Homo sapiens: one gene and its partners. The protein of the gene in region 2 interacts with the protein of the main gene of each other region in a pairwise test. Each region holds a gene or a part of one and is shown on either strand. Other genes may lie near its edges.

The links. The genes of interacting proteins can lie anywhere in the genome.
Region 1: the proteins of C1QTNF2 (region 2) and HPCAL1 interact in binary tests that used the Homo sapiens proteins (3 or more experiments, as listed by UniProt).
Region 3: the proteins of C1QTNF2 (region 2) and MTX2 interact in binary tests that used the Homo sapiens proteins (3 or more experiments, as listed by UniProt).

The regions. Positions count from the first base shown.
Region 1 is NC_000002.12:10,417,895-10,424,923, forward strand, and holds part of HPCAL1 (hippocalcin-like protein 1), read left to right. Parts: exon of another isoform or gene 1-571; intron 572-1,839; 5' UTR 1,840-1,863; coding exon 1,864-2,241; intron 2,242-5,088; coding exon 5,089-5,194; intron 5,195-6,630; coding exon of another isoform or gene 6,631-6,719; exon of another isoform or gene 6,720-7,029. UniProt on the Homo sapiens protein: May be involved in the calcium-dependent regulation of rhodopsin phosphorylation.
Region 2 is NC_000005.10:160,347,241-160,353,642, reverse strand, and holds the end of C1QTNF2 (complement C1q tumor necrosis factor-related protein 2 isoform 1 precursor), read left to right. Parts: intron 1-3,766; coding exon of another isoform or gene 3,767-3,861; coding exon 3,862-4,475; 3' UTR 4,476-5,889; downstream 5,890-6,402. UniProt on the Homo sapiens protein: Involved in the regulation of lipid metabolism in adipose tissue and liver.
Region 3 is NC_000002.12:176,321,433-176,328,461, reverse strand, and holds part of MTX2 (metaxin-2), read right to left. Parts: intron 5,071-7,029; coding exon 4,998-5,070; intron 1,638-4,997; coding exon 1,561-1,637; intron 170-1,560; coding exon 77-169; intron 1-76. UniProt on the Homo sapiens protein: Involved in transport of proteins into the mitochondrion.

The sequences.
Region 1 (7,029 bases), on a different chromosome or scaffold from region 2:
AACTGGGTGTGGTGGTGTGTGCCCATAGTCTCAGCTACTCAGGAGACTGAGGTGGGAGGATCACTTGAGCACCGGAGGTCAAGGCTTCAGTGAGTCATGATCACACACTGCAGCCTGGGTGACAGAGTGAGAGCCTGTCTCAAAAAATAAATAAATAAAAAATAGATAGATAGATTGATTGATTGATATAGAGAGGATAAGTAAAAACAAAAACATGTATGTACTATAAAACCTGGGATGGGCTGGGCGTGGTGGCTTATGCCTATACTCCTAACACTTTGAGAGGCCAAGGCAGGCGAATCACTTGAGGTCAGGAGTTTGAGACCAACCTGGCCAACATAGTGTGAAACCCTGTCTCTACTAAAAATACATAAATAAATAAATAAATAAATAGCCAGGTGTGGTGGTGCATGCCTATAATCCTAGCTACTCAGGAGGCTGAGTTGGGAGGATTGCTTGAACCCAGGAGGTGGAGGTTGCAGTGAGCCGAGATCACACCACTGCACACTCCTCATAAGTGCCTGGAAGGGCAACACAGTGAGACTCCATCTCAAAAAAAAAAAAAAAAAAAAAAAAACAACCCTGGGATAGAGGCAGAGAAGAAAGGAAGTGGTGGGCAGTGTGGGTGGTCTGTCTTACCTTTCATAATGGAGAGCTGGTGCCTACTGTTTAGAATTCACAAACACAGAGTTCAAAGTGGTTGCCACTGTGGCTAGGGTAGGAGACATCTTTTTATTTCTCATTCTTCCATGTACTTCAAAAATTATCACGCCCTGTATATCAGTTAACTGTTAATGTAAGAAAATAACATGAGGTGGTGCAGTGGCAGCCGTGTGAATGCCGGTTGATCAGTCTTGCATTCAGGACTTGTGGAGAACCGCCCTGGGGGATGGTTTTGAGCAGAGCAGTTCCTCGTTCCCACAGGTGCCTCATTTTTCCCTGGTTCCATTCAGAACATCATTTACTGCCTAGAGCTAATTCCAGATCCTCCTCCCACCCGGGGCAGTTTATCAAAGGCAAAATAAAGAGGGTGGGCCGGGGACAGTGGCTCACACCTGTAATCCCAGCACCTTGGGAGGCCGAGGCAGGTGGATCACCTGAGGTCTGGAGTTCGAGACCAGCCTGGCCAACATGGTGAAACCCTGTCTCTACTAAAAATACAAAAAATTAGCTGGGCGCGGTGGTGCATGCCTGTAATCCCAGCTACTCAGGAGGCTGAGGCAGGAGAATTGCTTGAACCTGGGAGGCGGAGGTTACAGTGAGCTGTGATCCTGCTACTGCACTGCAGCCTGGGCGACAAGAGCAAAACTCCATCTCAAAAGAAACAAACAAATAAACAAATAAAGAAGGTGGGTGGGGGTGACTCCCTGAAAGTTTCTAGACGCCTCTTCTAAAGATAAAAACATAATGTGATGCCTGAAAGAGGGAAGAACTGCCCCAAAGAGTCTGGGATGTGGCTGAGGTGGCCACTTTGCCAGGAGCTGATGAGGGGGATGAAAGTAAGAACTGATTTTAATCTTCGCCTCTCGTACAACCCCTGGTGGGCACCGGATGATGCCCTGTTCCACTGATTTTAAGTTGCATTTTCCCCCCCGCATTTCCACATTCTCCAAGTGAGAACGTGTCCCGCAGTGTGAGGGTGAGCTGTCGTGATATAATTAGAGTCTCTTGGCCTTCTTGGTGGTCCATAAGATAGCGGCATGCCTTCCGATGGGGGACCCGGGAGTTGCTGAGTCGCAGCGCTTGCACAGCGATGGGCTTATTTGGTCTCTCCGGCACATGGCTCAGCCCTGCTCCGTGGCCGTGGGTGGCGTCCCCGGCTGACCCCCTGTCTTGCAGGTGTAGTCGCCGCCGCCAGCCGCCATGGGCAAACAGAACAGCAAGCTGCGGCCCGAGGTGCTGCAGGACCTGCGGGAGAACACGGAGTTCACCGACCACGAGCTGCAGGAGTGGTACAAGGGCTTCCTCAAGGACTGCCCCACCGGCCACCTGACCGTGGACGAGTTCAAGAAGATCTACGCCAACTTCTTCCCCTACGGCGACGCTTCCAAGTTCGCCGAGCACGTCTTCCGCACCTTCGACACCAACGGCGACGGCACCATCGACTTCCGGGAGTTCATCATTGCGCTGAGCGTGACCTCGCGGGGCAAGCTGGAGCAGAAGCTCAAGTGGGCCTTCAGCATGTACGACCTGGACGGCAACGGCTACATCAGCCGCAGCGAGATGCTGGAGATCGTGCAGGTACCGGCGCCCGAGGCCCCGGGTCTCACCGCGGGCCCAGGTCCCCTCCCAGCTCCCAGCCCCCAGCCCAGGGCTTTTTTTTTTTTTTTTTTTTTTAAGACAGGAATCTTGCTCTAGTGACTGGAGTGCAGTGGCACTATCTCAGCTCACTGCAACCTCTGCCTCCTGGGCTCAGGTGATTTTTCCGCTTCAGCCTCTTGAGCACCTCCATGCCCTGTTAATTTTTTTGGTATTTTTGATGGTAGAGAGAGGGTTTTGCCACATTATCCAGGCTGGTCTTGAACTCCTAGGCTCAAGCGATCTGCCCGCCTCAGCCTCCCAGAGTGCTAGAATGACAGGTGTGAGCCACCGTGCCTGGCCTCCCTGTGTTCTTTATGTTCACTCGACATTGGGTCTTTCTTGGCCAGGTTGCTACCTGGTGCACTTTGGAAAGTGAGCAGTTGTCACCTGATTGGGCAGACCCTTGCAAAGGGCAATGGTAAAAGCCAATGTTTATTGATCACTTGCTATACATCAGGGCCGGGTGGAGCACTTTGATCCGTTTTCATCTTCATAACCCAACAACGTGGGTCATTCTCTGCATTTTACAAAGTCTGAGACTCAAATAGATGAATTTCTAAAAATTATATTTTATATATATTTGGAGATGGAGTCTCACTTTGTCGCCCAGGCTGGAGTGCAGTGGCATGATCTCGGCTCACTGCAACCTCCACCTCCTGGGTTCAAGAGATTCTCCTGTCTCAGCCTCCCATGTAGCTGGGATTACAGGTATGTGCCACCGCAGCCAGCTAATTTTTGTATTTTTAGTAGAGACGAGGTTTCACCATGTTGGCCAGGCTAGTCTTAAACTCCTCACCTCAGTTGATCTGCCTTCAGCCTCCCAAAGTGCTAGGATTACAGGCATGGGCCACCGTGCCTGGCCAAGAATTGTATGATTGCTGGGCTCCTTGGCACTTGCAAGAGGTACCTGCCAAGACCTGGGGAAAGCCCTGGATTTGAGAACTCAACAGATAGCTTGTGATGTCCCCAGGAATGCGCAGTCATCAAGTAAAACTGAAGCATTAACGATCACGAGAATCAGCTCAGCACGGGAAAGACGTCACTTTAGGAGGCATCTCTTCACCTTCATGCCTATCAACAGCTCTAGCAGAAAGGCCATGTTTCAGAAGGAAACCAAGTTTTGTTCACTTGGCCAGGTGCCTAGGTATGCGAGAGAGAGTAGAGAGCAGAGCTGCCCCTCCCTGGCATTCCCCTGAGTGCCTCCCTGAGCCCAGGAGCATCCAATTCTAGAACTCATGGCCAGGCCTGTAATCCCAACACTTTGGGTGGCCGAGGCTGGAGGATCGCGTGAGCCCGGGAGTTTGAGACCAGCCTGGGCAATATAGTGAGACTCCATCTCTATAAAAAATTAAAAGAGTAGCAGGGCATAGTGGCATGCACCTGTAGTCCCAGCTACTTGGGAGGCTGAGATGGGAGGATTGCTTGAGCCCAGGAGTTCAAGGTGACAGTGAGCTGTGATTGCACTGCTGCATTCCAGCCTGGGTGACAGAGTGAGACCCTGCCTCCAAAAAGACCAAAAGCAAAATAAGAAAAAAATGGAACTCTTCAGAAGGGGTGGTCCCATGGTAGGGAACTTCAGGGGTGGGCCTCCAGTAGCGGGTATCAAATCCGTGAACTTCTGCAGCAGCAGTGGCCCGCCTCAGGAATGAGCGACCCATTTCCCACGTAGATGGTTTTCACACTGTCAGAGTAAATTAACATGGGCTCGGGGAACTCTGGTACTGTCGTCACTTTCTGGCTCTTAGCTTCATGCAGTGGCGGAAGTAAGAATTCTATTCCCCAGGAATCACCCGTCCTGTCCTGTGTGTTAACCCTTACCCTTTGCAAATAGGTGTGCCTGTCACTGGCCGTGCAGAGGCTTGGTCAGAACATCAAGGCACTGGTAGAACTGTTCCAAGCAGTGAGGAGCAGCCACTTCTGTCCAAACGGGACAGCCCCCAAACCAAGTCCCCAAACCCTGAAAGCCTTCCCCCGACGCCATCGATGGCTCCCTGGCCGGCTGGGTGGTGTTTCTCATGGGACACTTGGTTGCTACCTCTTTCTCACAATGAGAAAATGGTCTGTTGTCAGGAATGAGAATATCAAGCCACCTTCACGTGGAGTGCTCAGAAAATCCCACAGCAGTGCCACCACTCCCCACGCATGTCACTCTGCTCAGTGGCCACTCACCAGTCCCATCACCGTCTCCTCTGTACACCCACCAGCAGCACAGAGTCACATGCCCCAGGCTGGGCCACTCAGGCAGAGACACGCAGAGAGACCAGTGGCTAGACTGAGCCCTCGGCTGACAGTGCCCTAAACAGGCCATGGAGACCCCAGTGCTGCTGCTTCCTGTCCTGTCGGGGCTGGTGATGGGGCTTGCCCTGTGAGTTTCAGGGACTCAGTCTCTTTTAAACTGAGGGGTAACAGCCATGGAGTAAAATGCACACAGCTCAGCAGGCAGTGTGGGGAATTTCACACATCTGTGACCACCACTCTCCCTCAGCATTCCCAGCCCCCGACAGGGACACTTAGGCACCTTCCTGGCACTACCCACCCCCAGGCAGAGATACCAGCACCCTCACCACCCTCCCAGTAGAACCCTTCTGCCAGCTCTGCTCTTGAACTTCACATAGACACCCGTGAGGTTCACTAGGGAACATTCTCCCCACTGGGGAAGGGTCCCGAAGGCCACCGGGAGCCCCTGACCTCTCCGAGCCTTGTTGTGGGCTGGGCGGAAGCCCACCCTTGCTGCACCCGCCCAAGCCCCCGGGCCTCTGAGCACAGTGTCATTGCCCCCATCCGCAGGCCATCTACAAGATGGTGTCGTCTGTGATGAAGATGCCGGAGGATGAGTCCACCCCGGAGAAGCGCACAGACAAGATCTTCAGGCAGATGGACACCAACAATGACGGTAGTGCGGGGTGGGGGCGGGGCTGCATGTGTACGCCACGGTAGGGGCAAAACCATGTGGTTTGGGGCACCCCCTCCCCTCTGCAGCTTCTTGGTCTCCTGAGGGCCACCCCCGCCCGCCACCTGCCTGGCGCCTGCCATGCCCAGGGAAGAGCGGGATGCAGTCAGGGACACCCGTGCTGTATCCTGGCTCCTCTGTGCAGCTTTGTGATGCTGGGCATGTTGTGGCCTCTCTGAGCCACTGTCTCCCCACTTATAGAATCGGGCATACCCATATTCCCGTGGGTACAATGTTTAGGGGCAGGGAGGCAAGCATGCTGGTGGCCCTGAACCTGGAGGGGTTGAGATCAAAGGATCCCAGATGTTGGGGTCCTGGGGTGCTGGCCATGCCTCTCTTGCTGCCATCCTGAGAGAAGAAGCTGCCCAGATGGCCCCAGTGTCCAAGGGGAACTGTCAGGATGTACGCTGCCACCTTGTCCACCTACAGCAGCTCTGTGGAGACTCAGCCCCACTGCAGAAGTGCAAGTCTCACGATGGTGGGTGGCAGCAGTGGTGACAGGGCTGTGCCTCGAGTGCCCTCCTCTGCATTGGCTGTGAGGTGAGGGCGGCTGTGCGGCCCTCCCATTCTGCTCTTCTTGCCGGCTTTGTCAAGAGCAGCCACAGCACCAGGTTTGCTTTGCTTTTGAGCAATAAAGAAACACGACCTTAAGAAGAGAAAATACAGGCTGGGCGCAGTGGCTCACGCCTGTAATCCCAGCACTTTGGGAGGCCGAGGTGGGCAGATCACGAGGTCAGGAGATCGAGACCATCCTGGCTAACACGGTGAAACCCCGTCTCTGCTAAAAATACAAAAAAATTAGCCAGGCGTGGTGGCGGGCGCCTGTAGTCCCAGCTACTCGGGAGGCTGAGGCAGGAGAATGGTGTGAACCCGGGAGGCAGAGCTTGCAGTGAGCCGAGATCGCACCACTGCACTCCAGCCTGGGCGATAGAGTGAGACTCCATCTCAAAAAAATAAAGAGGAAATACTCCCTGGGTTGTGCTGGGGATTAAACGATAAGCTAATGCCCAAGAAGCTGCTCTGCGAAGTCTGGAGTGCAGCCCTCGGGTGAGTTAAGCATGGCCCCAGCGGGAGACGGGATGTGGGGGAGCTGTAAGCAGCAAAGAGCATTCCAGGCAGCCAGGTCACAGTTTCAAAACACACACACACAGAAAACAAGGCTGCCTGGTGCCTGGCGTTGCCTTTGGGCTGATGGGAAATGTGTGTTCCACCCTCCAGCCTAGCAGGGCACCTGCTGCCGCTCTCCTGAGGCTGTCCGCTCCTCGTGGGGATGGTGAATCCGGTCCCATGGGGTTGTGAGGTTTCAGCGAGATGATGCCTTAAAGCTTTTAGCAGGGCTTGCACTCCACAAATAATGGCTGTTGTTCCCAACTTCACAGTGTCCCTGGGGAAGCCACCCATGGTCACTCGCTGCCCGAATCTGCCTCCTGGCTTGGCCCTGCCCACCTCTTCAGAGGGCATCTTCTAGGTTGGTTGGGAATTTGGATGGCATGGTCGTTGCTAATGTGCCTGCTGGGATGGAGCACTTCCTCCTGTGAGCCCAGGGGACCCGCCTGTCCCTGGAGCTTGGGGCAAGGAGGGAAGAGTGATACCAGGAAGGTGGGGCTGCAGCCAGGGGCCAGAGTCAGTTCAGGGAGTGGTCCTCGGCCCTCAAAGCTCCTCCGGGGACTGCTCAGGAGTGATGGTGCCCTGGAGTTTGCCCCAACTTCCCTGGCCACCCTGGAAGGTGCCTGGCTGCTCCAGGCCTCTAGGCTGGGCTGATGGGTTTCTCCAGGACA
Region 2 (6,402 bases):
TCTTCCTGGCTTCATCCACAGAGCAAATCTCAGAACAGCCAATTCTCCTTGGCCACATGCGTATCCTGGACCAATTCCCTTGACCAAGGAGGTGAGGTGCCTCCATTTGCAGGGCAGGCTCATGGACCCACCCCTGCGTGTGTGTGAGTGGGTGGTGGGGGCAGTCAGTCATTGTGACTGACAGCCCCGCTAGGACCGTATGAAATGAAATGGTGAAGGGCAACTCCCCAAAGGAAGGGATGCCAGGCAGACGGCGAGCAGAATGGATATACTCTACAGACCTTTCCGTTGTGACATTCCTTATATCTCCAAACTTTCACCCCAGCAACCAAGCACTTTTCAGTGTCAGCAGCATCCCTAAGCCTACATTTTAAGCAGTAGAGAAATATAATAATTTTTATTTGTATGGCATTTTAATATTGACAAAGCACTTTTGAACATGTTGCCCATCTGACCATCCATATCGTGTGCCGGAGGGATTCTTATTTTCCCCATGTTACAGATGAGGATACTGAGAGTCAGAGTGATTCAGTTGATAGCAAAATGTCATCCTCGCAAGAACGTGAACTTTGGAAACAAACCTGGACACTGATTTTGACAAACTACTTAACTTCTCTCCAAACCATGGTTTCCTCATCTCTAAAATATGGATAATAATAGCACCTGTCTCACAAGGTTGTGGTAAAGATGAAATAAAACAATGTATGAAGGACCAGTCTCAGCATAGACATACAATAAATGTTAGGCACCCTGTAATTGACTTATTGAGCTCACATAGCATGCAGATAGCTGACTCCAAATCCAGGTCTTTTCCTACCACACCAAACTAATTCCTTCAAAGGTACCTCCTCCCCAGGAGATTAGTATAAAAGTAACTATCATAGCTTTAACTGGGGTGGGTCTTCCAGCGTGCTGGGCACTGGTATCATGATATCCAATTTCCTGACCACGGCGGCAGACTCAGGTCTGGACATGTGCTCCAAGCAGGCCAGCTAGAGTTTTCCCTGAGATTTGCCTATGGATCCTGAGGGACAGAGTCTCTGCTGTTGACTTCCCCAAATAGATAAAGCTTACCAGGAAGTTCTACCATGTACTGGGGCTGCCTTTGGCCATCTGTTCTGCTGTGTGTTGAGTCTCTGCAGAGAAGGAAGCCACCACACCAAGGAAGGCAGTGTTGGGAGAGTCCCAGCGCATGTAACTCAAACAAAGCTTGTCACCCTGGGGCCAATTCAGGATAACATCCAACCACCCGCCATCACCACACATACAAATTCACCTCCAGAAAAGTCTTTCAAGAGTAAAGTCAGCTTTTCCCAAAGTCTCTCAAAAAAGGTAAAGAAGAGGAAAGCACATTATATAATACATGGTAGGACCTCCTGGTAAGCTTTTTTATCTATTTGTCTCCCGCCAAAAACCCCAAGTCAAAATGACTTGGAGGCTGCGTGGTGGCTCATGCCTGTAATTTCAGCAGTTTGGGAGGCCAAGGCAAGAGTACTGGGAGGCCAGGAGTTTGAGACCAGACTGGGCAACATAGGGAGACACCATTTCTACAAAAAATTTTAAAATTAACTAAGTGTGGTGGTGTGTGCCTGAAGTCCCAGCTACTCAGGAGGCTGAGGCAGGAAGATTACTCAAGCCCAAGAGTTTGAGGTTACAGTGAGCTATGATCGCGCCACTGCACTCCAGCCTGCGTAACAGCGTGAGACTCTATCTTTAAAAAAAAAAAAAAAAAGATTCTGTCTCTATTCCTCTTCTCTTGGCCCCTTTTCCCACCTTTTGTTTATTTTCATTTTTTCAAGAAATAGCTTTGTGACTTTTCTGAGTTTTATTTTTTCCCATTCTTTTTGTTTATTTTTAATTATATGAGTAATATACAAATACAGTCTCATTGTAATATATTCAAACAATACACATAAAGCAAAAGTCCTCCTTACTTACTACCCCTTCTCATCCTTCCCTCACCCTCCAGAGGTAACCACTATTAATTGGTTAGGTATGTATCTTTCCTGGCCTTTTTCTATATATTTACATATGTATTTAATAATACCAGGCATTGTCAGGCACTTAACATAAGCACTCTGTTCCTGAAAATCAAGTGTTCAGTAACAAAATGCAATTTGGAAACCTATTTCCGAATTATGTAAAATAGGAAAAATTCAGATGCATTACAGATTAACTCAAAACTCTAAAACACAGTGAAATGCCTACATACAAATGTATAAGAAACAAAGTAACTTGTTAGGATGTAAAATGCCTAAAACTTTACTTCCTTGACCCAGTTCATATGGTTCTAACAACCTTGTGTCGAGTGAACTCAAGTCATTATCCATATAGGTTTTGCTTAAAATGTTGTATTGAGTTGAGGGGACATAAACTAAATTGATTTTATGCAATCAGTAGCCAAAAATGTTGGATTGAGAGAAATGTGCATTTTATGAAACATTGGAGTATGAAACATCAAAAAGCCTTCTAAAGGAAAACACAACTGGGGGAATTGTTCTGCAGGGAATGCCAGCTAGTATTTAGGAATGTTTGCTATAGGCCAAGCACTCTTCTATGCGTTTAAATGGGTGTAGAAATATTTAGCACTGTGGGCCAGGTGTGGTGGCTCACGCCTGTAATCCCAGCACTTTGGGAGGCCGAGGTGGGCAGATCACGAGGTCAGGAGTTTAAGACCATCCTGGCTAACACGGTGAAACCCCATCTCTACTAAATATACAAAAAATTAGCCGGGCGTGGTGGCAGGTGCCTGTAGTCCCAGCTACTCAGGAGGCTGAGGCAGAAGAATGGTGTGAACCTGGGAGGCGGAGCTTGCAGTGAGCGGAGATCGCGCCACTGTGCTCCAGCCTGGGCGACAGAGCAAGATTCCGTCTCAAAAAAAAAAAAAAAAAATTGGCATTGTGGATTCCATTCCTTTTGTTTTTCTAATTTTTATTTTTTAGAGACAAGGTCTTACTCTGTTGCCCAGGCTGGAATGCAGTGACACAATCATAGCTCACTGTAACCTGGAACTCGTGGGCTCAAGGGATCCTGTCACCTCAGCCTCCCAAGTAGATGGGGCTAAAGGCATATGCCACCATGCCTGACTAATTTTTGTATTTTTTGTAGAGACTGTCTGGCTACATTGCCCAGGCTGGTCTCAAACTCCTGGCCTCAAGCAATCCTCCAGTCCCAGCTTCCCAAAGTGCTGGGATTATAGACGCGAGCCACCTTGCCCGGCCTGCCTTCCTTTTAACACAAAGGGTCTGGCCACCTGCTCTTTCCTCTTAGTGTATGTTAGAGAAGGTTTCATAGAGCACACGTAACTCTACTTTTTTTTTTAACTCCTGCATAGAAATCCACAGTATAGATGGACCGTAATGTTTTTTATCATTTGCCTTTGGATGGGCATTTAGTTGTTCCTATTTTTTGCTATTATAAGCAATGCTGCAATAAAATCCTTGTACACGTGGGCAGGGCTTATATGCACTAGGCAGGGATTTTACTAAGATCAACGTGTTGAAATCAAGAGGCTTTTTCCAGTTCTCTTCTCAACCCATTACCAGCGCAGCCCATGGAAGGATTGAGCTGGCAGACAGACCAGACCCTTCCTTAGAAGGCAGGAAAAGGAAAGGGTGTGAACTGTTACAAGTTATTCTTTTTGCCCTGATCCACAGTGATTCTTGAAGGTAAGTATCATCATTTCCATTTTCCAGAGAGCTAGCATTAGGATTTACACCCACTTCTATATGTCTGCAAAGCCTTCTTGTTCTTTCTATTACCCAAGCACTCCTTCTCCAAGATTGGAAGACCAAGCCGCACCGCACCCCTCTGCCTAGGTCTGTGAGGACCCTCCATAACACCAGCTGCTCTGTCTTCCAGGTCCACCTGGCCGGACAGGTAACCGGGGAAAGCCAGGACCAAAGGGCAAAGCCGGGGCCATTGGGCGGGCTGGCCCCCGTGGCCCCAAGGGGGTCAACGGTACCCCCGGGAAGCATGGCACACCAGGCAAGAAGGGGCCCAAGGGCAAGAAGGGGGAGCCAGGCCTCCCAGGCCCCTGCAGCTGTGGCAGTGGCCATACCAAGTCAGCTTTCTCGGTGGCAGTGACCAAGAGCTACCCACGGGAGCGGCTGCCCATCAAGTTTGACAAGATTCTGATGAACGAGGGTGGCCACTACAATGCTTCCAGCGGCAAGTTCGTCTGCGGCGTGCCTGGGATCTACTACTTCACCTACGACATCACGCTGGCCAACAAGCACCTGGCCATCGGCCTGGTGCACAACGGCCAGTACCGCATCCGGACCTTTGATGCCAACACCGGCAACCACGATGTGGCCTCAGGCTCCACCATCCTGGCTCTCAAGCAGGGTGACGAAGTTTGGCTGCAGATCTTCTACTCAGAGCAGAACGGGCTCTTCTATGACCCTTACTGGACAGACAGCCTCTTTACGGGCTTCCTAATCTATGCCGACCAGGATGACCCCAACGAGGTATAGACATGCCACGGCGGTCCTCCAGGCAGGGAACAAGCTTCTGGACTTGGGCTTACAGAGCAAGACCCCACAACTGTAGGCTGGGGGTGGGGGGTCGAGTGAGCGGTTCTAGCCTCAGGCTCACCTCCTCTGCCTCTTTTTTTCCCCTTCATTAAATCCAAACCTTTTTATTCATCCAACCATCTATTTATTCACTTCTTTTTAAAGTATCTACTGTGTAACAGGCACTATGCTATTCTCTGAAAGATGCAGCAGTGGACAAGACAGAGTATCTGTCCTCATGCAGCTTACATTCTAGCAGGAGATACAATTTACAAATATACAAGCAAATAATATAATATTATGCCAGGATAGAAATGAACATGCCATGGTTGACAGTAATAGGAATAACAGGAGACAGGGAAGAGGTGGAAATTTGTTTCTTTTTTTAAGTTTGCGTTTTTAGGTTTACTTACATACAGTGACTCTCCAGATTTTAAGTTGACAACTCAGTGAATAATTTTTGCTTATGTGCACACTCTGAAACCTCCATGTAGATCAAAGAACAAGCTATTTCCAACTTCTCACCTCCCTTCCCCAAAAGCTCTCTTAAGACCCCTCTAAGTCAGTACCTGGAAAATTTCCATTTTTGAGCTGAGTTCCAAAGAAGGAAATAGAGCAACACAAAGGCCTCGAAAAGAGGTCTCCAGCAAAAGGCTCTGCAAGTGCAAAGACCTTGACAGGAAAGAGGGAGGGGCCAAGGTAAGAACTGAGAAGGGAGGCATGAGGCGTGAGGCTGGAAGATAATACAGAATGTCCCAGGCCATGGCAGAGCTCGTTCCATTCACGAAGGCTTATCAGAATACAAAGTGACACTGATAGGCGGATCATCTTGAATCTGCTCATTGCATGAGTCAAGTCGGCCACAGACTTGAGCGCTTTATTATTAGTTAATCTTTTGCAGGCCCGCTTCTCAATGAATGAGATACACCAGGATATGCACGTGCATCTGAGAACCGCTGCTCTGAGATGGCAGGAATGGATCCCACGCAAATGAATCGCACCCCAAGCACAGGTGTTGCCAGTATGCAGGGATCTGGGGGCTTAAGAAGCTGCAGTAAAAGTGCCAGGTGCTGGCGGGATGTGGTAGCTCATGCCTATAATCCCAGGACTTTGGGAAGCTGAGGTGGACGGATCATTTGAGGTCAGGAGTTCAAGACCAGCCTGACCAACATGGCAAAACATCGTCTAAAAAAATACAAAAATTAGACAGGCGTGGTGTTGGGTGCCTGTAATCCCAGCTACTGGGGAGGCTGAGGCGGGAGAATCGCTTGAACCCAGGAGGTGGAGGTTGCAGTTAGCTGAGATCCTGCCACTGCACTCCAGCCTGGGCAACAGAGTGAGACTATCTCAAAAAAAAACAAAAAAAAAAAAAAAACAAAAACAAAAACGCAGGTACTGAGAGACCCATGAAACGATTTGCTGGAGATAATTTTCAGTTGGAGCTGCAGCTCCCTAGCAGCTTTCTCTGGCTGCCCGCCTAGTGAGATCCTCAGGGACAAGGATAGCTGCACGGGATAGTTCCAGAAGGAGTGGCCATCTCCATAAATAAAATCGGGTTTATTTAAAATAACTCCATTGTCTCTGGGCCATAAATGGTTTGGGATTGGGGTGGGTCTGAAACATTCAGGAAAGGCTTTCTGGCCCAATCAGATTGACGTGTGGGTTGGGGTCCCCTGCAGCACCCCTGTGGGAAGGGGTCAGCTTTGGTCAGTGAACAGTTCTTTTTACCTTTTCTTTTTCTTACAAAAATAAATTTTAGGAGAGCCTTTCGCTTCTTCCTCTTCCTTCCCTCAGGGATATAGGCATTTGAAGGCATTTGACTTAACCCTTTGTAGCCCAGGTAATAAATCCAAACTCAGCAAGATGGGCTGGACCCCAGAGCTCTGTG
Region 3 (7,029 bases), on a different chromosome or scaffold from region 2:
AACCCATAAGAAAGATTATATTTTATGAGAATGAGAGAAAAAGCTTATTTTCAAGCCGTATCATCTAGTATTTTACCTCTGCAGTCAACAGCATATTGTTGACTAATTCCATGTAAGCTTTCATTTCTGCTTTTTGGACTTCCTCCAGCCCATCACTAAGAGAATGGCCCTAAAGGGAATTTAAAAAAATTTAAAAGAACATCATATTAAATATACAAAAACTTTCAGTTATCTCACTAACAAATAACGTAACATGCAACTATACAATGAATTAAACGTCCAAAATGCCCCCTAAAAATTATTTTATATAAAAGCATAAATAATACTCTGCTATCACTACAAAATATTAGTATGTACTTACTTGTCATTATACAAATGTATCTTTCAATAGAGAAAATTACACTATCAACTACTTCACAAAAGAAGAAAACAGAATGGTCAGCAAACCTTGTTTAAGAGATTAACCTTATTTAGAAATAAAGGAAATGCCAAAAGACTGACATGTGCTGTTTATAAAGTGGTCAAAGATGAAAAAAATACGTTTGTAAAGATATGGGGGGAGAAACCCACTTATTTTAAAATTCTAATACTCTATAGTTACTAGGAGATACATAAAATGATATAACCTTTAGTTCAATCTGGCAATCTATTACAAGATTTAAAAAGTACATAACCTATGACATCCTAATACCACTCTCAGGAATTTATCCTAAGGTACCAATACCAACCTTAGGAATTTATACAAAGATGTATATATAAGAAAATTTATCTTAGTACTCTATAAAAACAAAAAATTGGCCATGACCTAAAAGCCCAACAATAAACTTGAGTAAATAAAATTCTAATTTATCCAATACAGGGGGAGGGTGTTGAAGAAAAAAAAAATAATATATATATATATTTTGGAGATATATATATATCTCCAATACAGCAGAATACAACAATGTGAAAGGATGATATATACCTACAGCTATTAATATGGAAGAATTTCCAAACATATTTATGATTTTAAAAGGTATGTTGCAAAATAATACACACTAGTATGATCTAGGTTTTTCTATATATTCAAAAAGTCTGGAATGATTTTTCAGAAACACTAATGGGAGTTGTTCCTTAATAACTATTAAAATCTAAACTGAATAAATGAAAAGCAGAATCATTCAAATGGATAAATACATTCAACTTCAAACAAATCCTGTATCTCCCTTTTCAAAGGTCAGCCAGACACTTCAAAACCTAATAGTTTTTCATTTATGACCACAGTTGTAGTAAGCATAAGTTAGAAAATTATCTACCATTTTGTAAAGATCAAACCATCTCTTTAGACTAGATATTAAAATTACATACCTTTAATAAATTTGACATTAATAGAGGAAAAAAAGCTACCTCTTTTGCCATTATATCATGAAAAAATACTAACTTACACTTCAGAAATATTTTCCAGTAGTTTGCATTGGCATTTTATAAAACTAGGTTGAAATCAATGTAAATGTTAAGACACATTAAAGAATGATGAATGACTTGGTAACTGATCAAATACATTTAATATCTTTTTATTACCTTGGCTTTAACAAATTGGACTATTGGACCAAGTTCTGATACTACTTGATTTCCCACATGAATAAAAGGTACTTTACCTGTTGAGAGAAAAAAAAAGTATTTATAAAAATACTTCCAGTATGTTAAAGTTTGTGATAATTAAAAAAAATTAACACAAAACTCAGGTATTTATAAATAGGGATTTCATAAAACTGTAACTTTTGAAAATTTTTGTCAGATGTGTATATTAAATTCTGTAAGTTTTTAAACTGATTACTAACCAACTTTAGAAAAAAAGAACAGGTAAATTCATTTCTAGAGTTCTCACTTAGATATAATAACAGATCACATAACATTCTCTTTTCAGAGCCAACACAAACATATCACCATATAGCAGCAAACACTAATTATCCAAATTACATGAACCAAGCCAGGACACTGGTACATGACCACTGATATATTTCAAAGAAATGTAAGCTTTCTTTTCAGAGTACAGTGAATCAATCTATATTGTAAACTACATTTAAAAAACCTTTTTACATCTTTTAAGTCTTTGATACCCATTGAGATCAACATTTTAAGCAAGTAATTGTATATCAATAAATCTCTTTAACTCAAAATAGCAAGAATTAAAAGAATTAACAATCTTTGAAGGCATGCTAGTTGGTGAGTTGTAATACAGAGTATGTTCCCAACATGTGGGAAAAAATAATAGTATGTTTATAAAAACTAGCTTCTATAGATAAATGTCACATTAAAAAAGAAATATTTCACTTTAACAAATACTAATACTTGGAATTATTAGAGATGAGAGAACAAAATAATCTCCAAATAGCAAGAAGGGTCTACTCCAAATGCTAAAGAATGAAACCTGCTGTCACACCTAGTTCAAATAGAGTTCACACTAACAGCAGGCTTCTTCCTGTTCCTTTTCAATAGATTCACTCCTCTCTGGCTCCGTCAGCCTGGGGGTAATGGATGAAGTACAGAGGCCTAACAAAAGCTTCAACTGCATCCATAGGACAACATGCATTACAAAGAAAAGGCAGGCCTTTTGGAACACAACAACTCAATAGATGTATTGAGAAGATATTTCCCTGTTGCCAATTCTGCATTCCTTCCTTCTACTGCTTTATAAATCTTGCAAAAAAAAATTTTTTTATCTGGTTAAGCATTAGGCCACATTGTTTTCTTAACTCGGGATAAAATCTTTGTAACTACTATACTACCAGAATTATTACAGGTCCCCTGAGATCAAATGATCTGAGAATGAAAACTATTTAGTACCTAGACAAACAGTATTTGGGGGTATAATATTTTTAGAGCAAAGCATATTCCTTGTTTTTAATGACCAGTTTCAGGTTCTTGGAAAAAAGGGTTTGTATTTTTTTTCTTTTCTTAAAAATACATTGAGCGTTGTCAATTCTGAAGCAAAAAGAAGTGTGGATAGTCAACTGAGTATTAATCTTATATATCTCTAAATATAAAGAGATATATAAAAACAAACACAACAAATTAGAAGTGAATAATGTTTTCTGTCACTAGCCTGCTTAATGAAAATGGAGCCAATGTTATATCCTTATTATTGCAGGTATCAGGCAAAAACACAGTAAGACAGTTATTTTCTGGTGCGAATCAAAGGTCATATAAGAAAACTGAGGGCTTTGTTTACCGTCTTAGACAGAATAATCACTTTTAAAATTTTTATTCTAAAGAAAGCAAGAATATGTTGCCAAACAAGTTGGCAGATTCAAAGAATGCAAGAAATAGGACCTTGGATGTCATCTAATCCGGCTACCTTATATTACAGATGAAGTCACTGAGGCTCAGAGAAGTGAAATTTCTCAAGGAAATAGTTAATATGTGACAAAGTCACAGAAGGATTAGTTAAAGATTTCCTAACTCTTTAGGAAATAAGAGTTTAAGTCAACTGGTCTTCTGACTAGTCCATGCTCTCTGCTTTAAAAATCTACCGCAAGATCAAAGAAGCAAATACAATAAAAAACATTTCCCTATCACCTCAAATCATTAAATGAAAGAGAATACCAATCTGAGATATGATAAAGTTTAAATATCTTAGTAGAAAGTGCCATTTTCATCTACCTATAGGAGACTCCTATGAAAGAATGTATATTTTTGTATGTCTCTAGAATATTTATGTTTGTCTTTCGCGCAATCTAATAAAAAGAAAATAGGTATCTACCTAAATGACACTAAGTATAGTAATTTTAGGAAACAGGTAGATAAACTATATTGATATCTCACTTGCCAAAGATCTGAACTTTAGCATTAGATTACTAACCTTCTAACCTTTTTACATAAATATACAAACTGTTTGTATGACTACATAGAGGAAAAGGATGGACAAAACACAACATAACTTATTTCACCAGAACTCTGTAGTTCCTAAAATCTACGTATAAAACCAACACAAAAATGAGTCAATGAATGCCCTCCAAGAATCTAAAATATGTTTACATTTACAAGCCTAGAAATTATTTTATGGAAATGTTTTCTAAATGTATATTCATAAACCTCTAAAACCAGGTATTTATATAAAAGAACATTATGTACAGAAGGGGTGTCTTCATACCTTTTAACAATTTCTACCACCCTTAAAAACTTAAGGTGGAAAAAAAAAATTTAACACAAGTCACTCCTAAATTATCATATCAAAATGAAAAATGTCTCCCTAAAAAGCAATGTTACACACTTATACCAATCAGTTATACTTAATAATTTATTCAAAAAGGAGTAATTCTACGTATTATTGCTCCAACAAAACCATAATTACAATAATCATCCATGATAATTATATATAACATTTATTTATCAGCTTTGTAGCACATTTTTATATTAAAAATTTTGAATTATTTATTTAAAACAGTAATTTAATCTACTGACATAAAGATAATACTGATTTTAAAAAATAGGAAGCTAAAGCATCTCAAAACCTGTTAAAATTAAGCATTAGAAAAAATAATTAGAAACCAAAAACATTCAGTGATGACTTCAAGATCTAACGACAAATTAATTTTTCTACAATCTCTCTTCTTCCAGCTGTATTATGGGAGAATATAATTAAGAAAGATGTGTGGAATAATAAATGGATTCATTATTACTAAAATTTGTTTTCTCAACAGGAAAGTCTTATGTACATTAAGACTAGGGAAATCTGAGATCATGTATTTCCTTAACATTTACTATTTAAAACAATTCCCTTACTATTAAAACCATTTCCACACGTCAGTAACCATCTCTGATCACAGTTGAAATGAATAGATATGCCAACCCCAAGATTGTCAAATTTGCAATTGTTACTTTCTAAAACCATGGAAAGATTCTTCAAAGGGTAAACAAAAAAAATCAGGCATTTTAACATGTAGATACAAACTGGACTATCACTATAATTTTATCACTCCATAATATTAACAGAGAAGAAAAAAAAACACACTTACCAGATGGAGACATATATTCTGCATTTGCCCTACAAACTACTTTGATAGGCAAGTTACACATTTGCAAAAAGGCCTGTAAATCAAGATACATACAATAAGCCCAGTAAAAAGCATATGCATATTTGAACAGAAATTTGTATGCATTTCTTTTCTAAACTGAATAGTTTCATACTACAAAACTCTAATAGAAAACAATGAACCAATTTAAAGTGAAGGATTTGTTTTCCAAACAAAAATGTCATGTCACTACTTAAAAATCAGTATGATTTAGACATCAGTAAATACATGAAACTTAAAGTATGTATGTATACCTAAGGAATAAAATGTAAATTATCCACATTTATGTTACTGTATTAGTTTATGTAAACCAGCAATACTATATATATAGCTTTAATTTTCTTAAGTAGATGACTAAAGTCCAAATTTTATAAGCTATTAATTGCTTCATTCCACTATTTTCTATAGGATCATCATCTTCCTCATTTTAGAGGAAAACTCAAAATACTATCTCTGCTACCTCAAAGTTCTCTCCAGTAATACCCTATATTCCAACATGTAGTTTCTGTGCTCACGAATTCACTTTTTAAAGACTTAAATTGTTTATCTTTGCTCATAGTTACAAAAATGTTATAAGCAATTTAAATGTCTAATAATAAGGGTATGGGGTAAATCATTATAGTAAATCCAAACTATGGAATGCTATACACAATCAATTTTAAAACTCATGCTTTAGAAAAAATTTTACATCAAGAAAAAATGTACACATTATAATATTAAGTAAAAAAATGCAAAACTCTATTACTAGATCACACTAATTCATTTTTAAATGTTTTTAAGACACCAGTGAACTCTGCCAAACCCACTGTTTTTTACAATACTCAAAGTCCACTCCCCTTGTTCTCTCTTCTATGACTTCTTGGCTTCTTTTTCTCTATTCACAAAATTTACTATGTTATTTCTATAAAATAATTCAGTTATTCAATTGGGGAGGTCATAAGTTACAATGGTTCTAATTACCACATACAAATTGGAAGACAAACCTTTTGTCTATTTTGAAATTGAAAGTACTATAAATAGCTGTCAAAAGTAAGATAAGATAAATTAATAAATTAACAAGGATATTATTTATCATTTTACTCAACAGAGATTTCTCATAGGTTTATTATAATTCCTTCCTCAACTCTACATTAGAAATAAGTGTTAAGACTCTTAAGTGTTAAGGGTACAAAACAGTGATTAATATCTTGTACAAAGAACTCCATTTACCCAAAAGTATGTCAATTCTCTTCTGTTTTCTCAAAACTCCAGTCCTTTAGAGATGCCTGCCTCCAAAAATAAATCCCACGTGAGTCTGATTCCCCCACTAATTGCATCCTCTGATTCTTACATTGCTCTGTAACTTATGTATGCATGTCTGATCTCCTCAAGTAAATGGCATCTCTTAGAAAAGCAAGGGGGAGATTTTTAATTTTTTTTTTCAATTCTGTTCTCCTTCCCCCAATCTCCCTCATTTTCCCACAATTCATCTTTCATAGTGCACTACTTATAATAAGCAATATTGTTTACTGATTGAGCCATTCAAAGCTCCCAAGAGCTTATCCTGGTAGAGGCTGTTATCCCTGCCACATATGTTCTCTCCTTTCCCTACAGTGGTAGAAACTATCTGCACACAAGGCTGCCTAAAATAAAAACTTATTTTCCGGGCTCCCTTACAACTGGGTATGGCCAACTGGACTAAAAGTTCTGGACAACTGCTGGGAAGTTTCTTTAAAAGGAGAAAGTATCTCCTCTTTTTCCTCCCTGTTGACTAGAATGTAAAAAGGATGGCTATAGCTATAGCAGCCAAACAGAACCATGAAGTAGCAGCTGAGTGTTAGAAATGGTAGAGCAACAAGAGTAAAGGGGCCCAGGTTCTTGATAATCATGTAGTCACCAAACCTGGATTACCCGTGTTTGTCCGAGAAGTGAACTACCTTTTTAAGCTACCACTATATTGGGTTTCTGTCACTCACTGCCAAATCCAATCTTAATT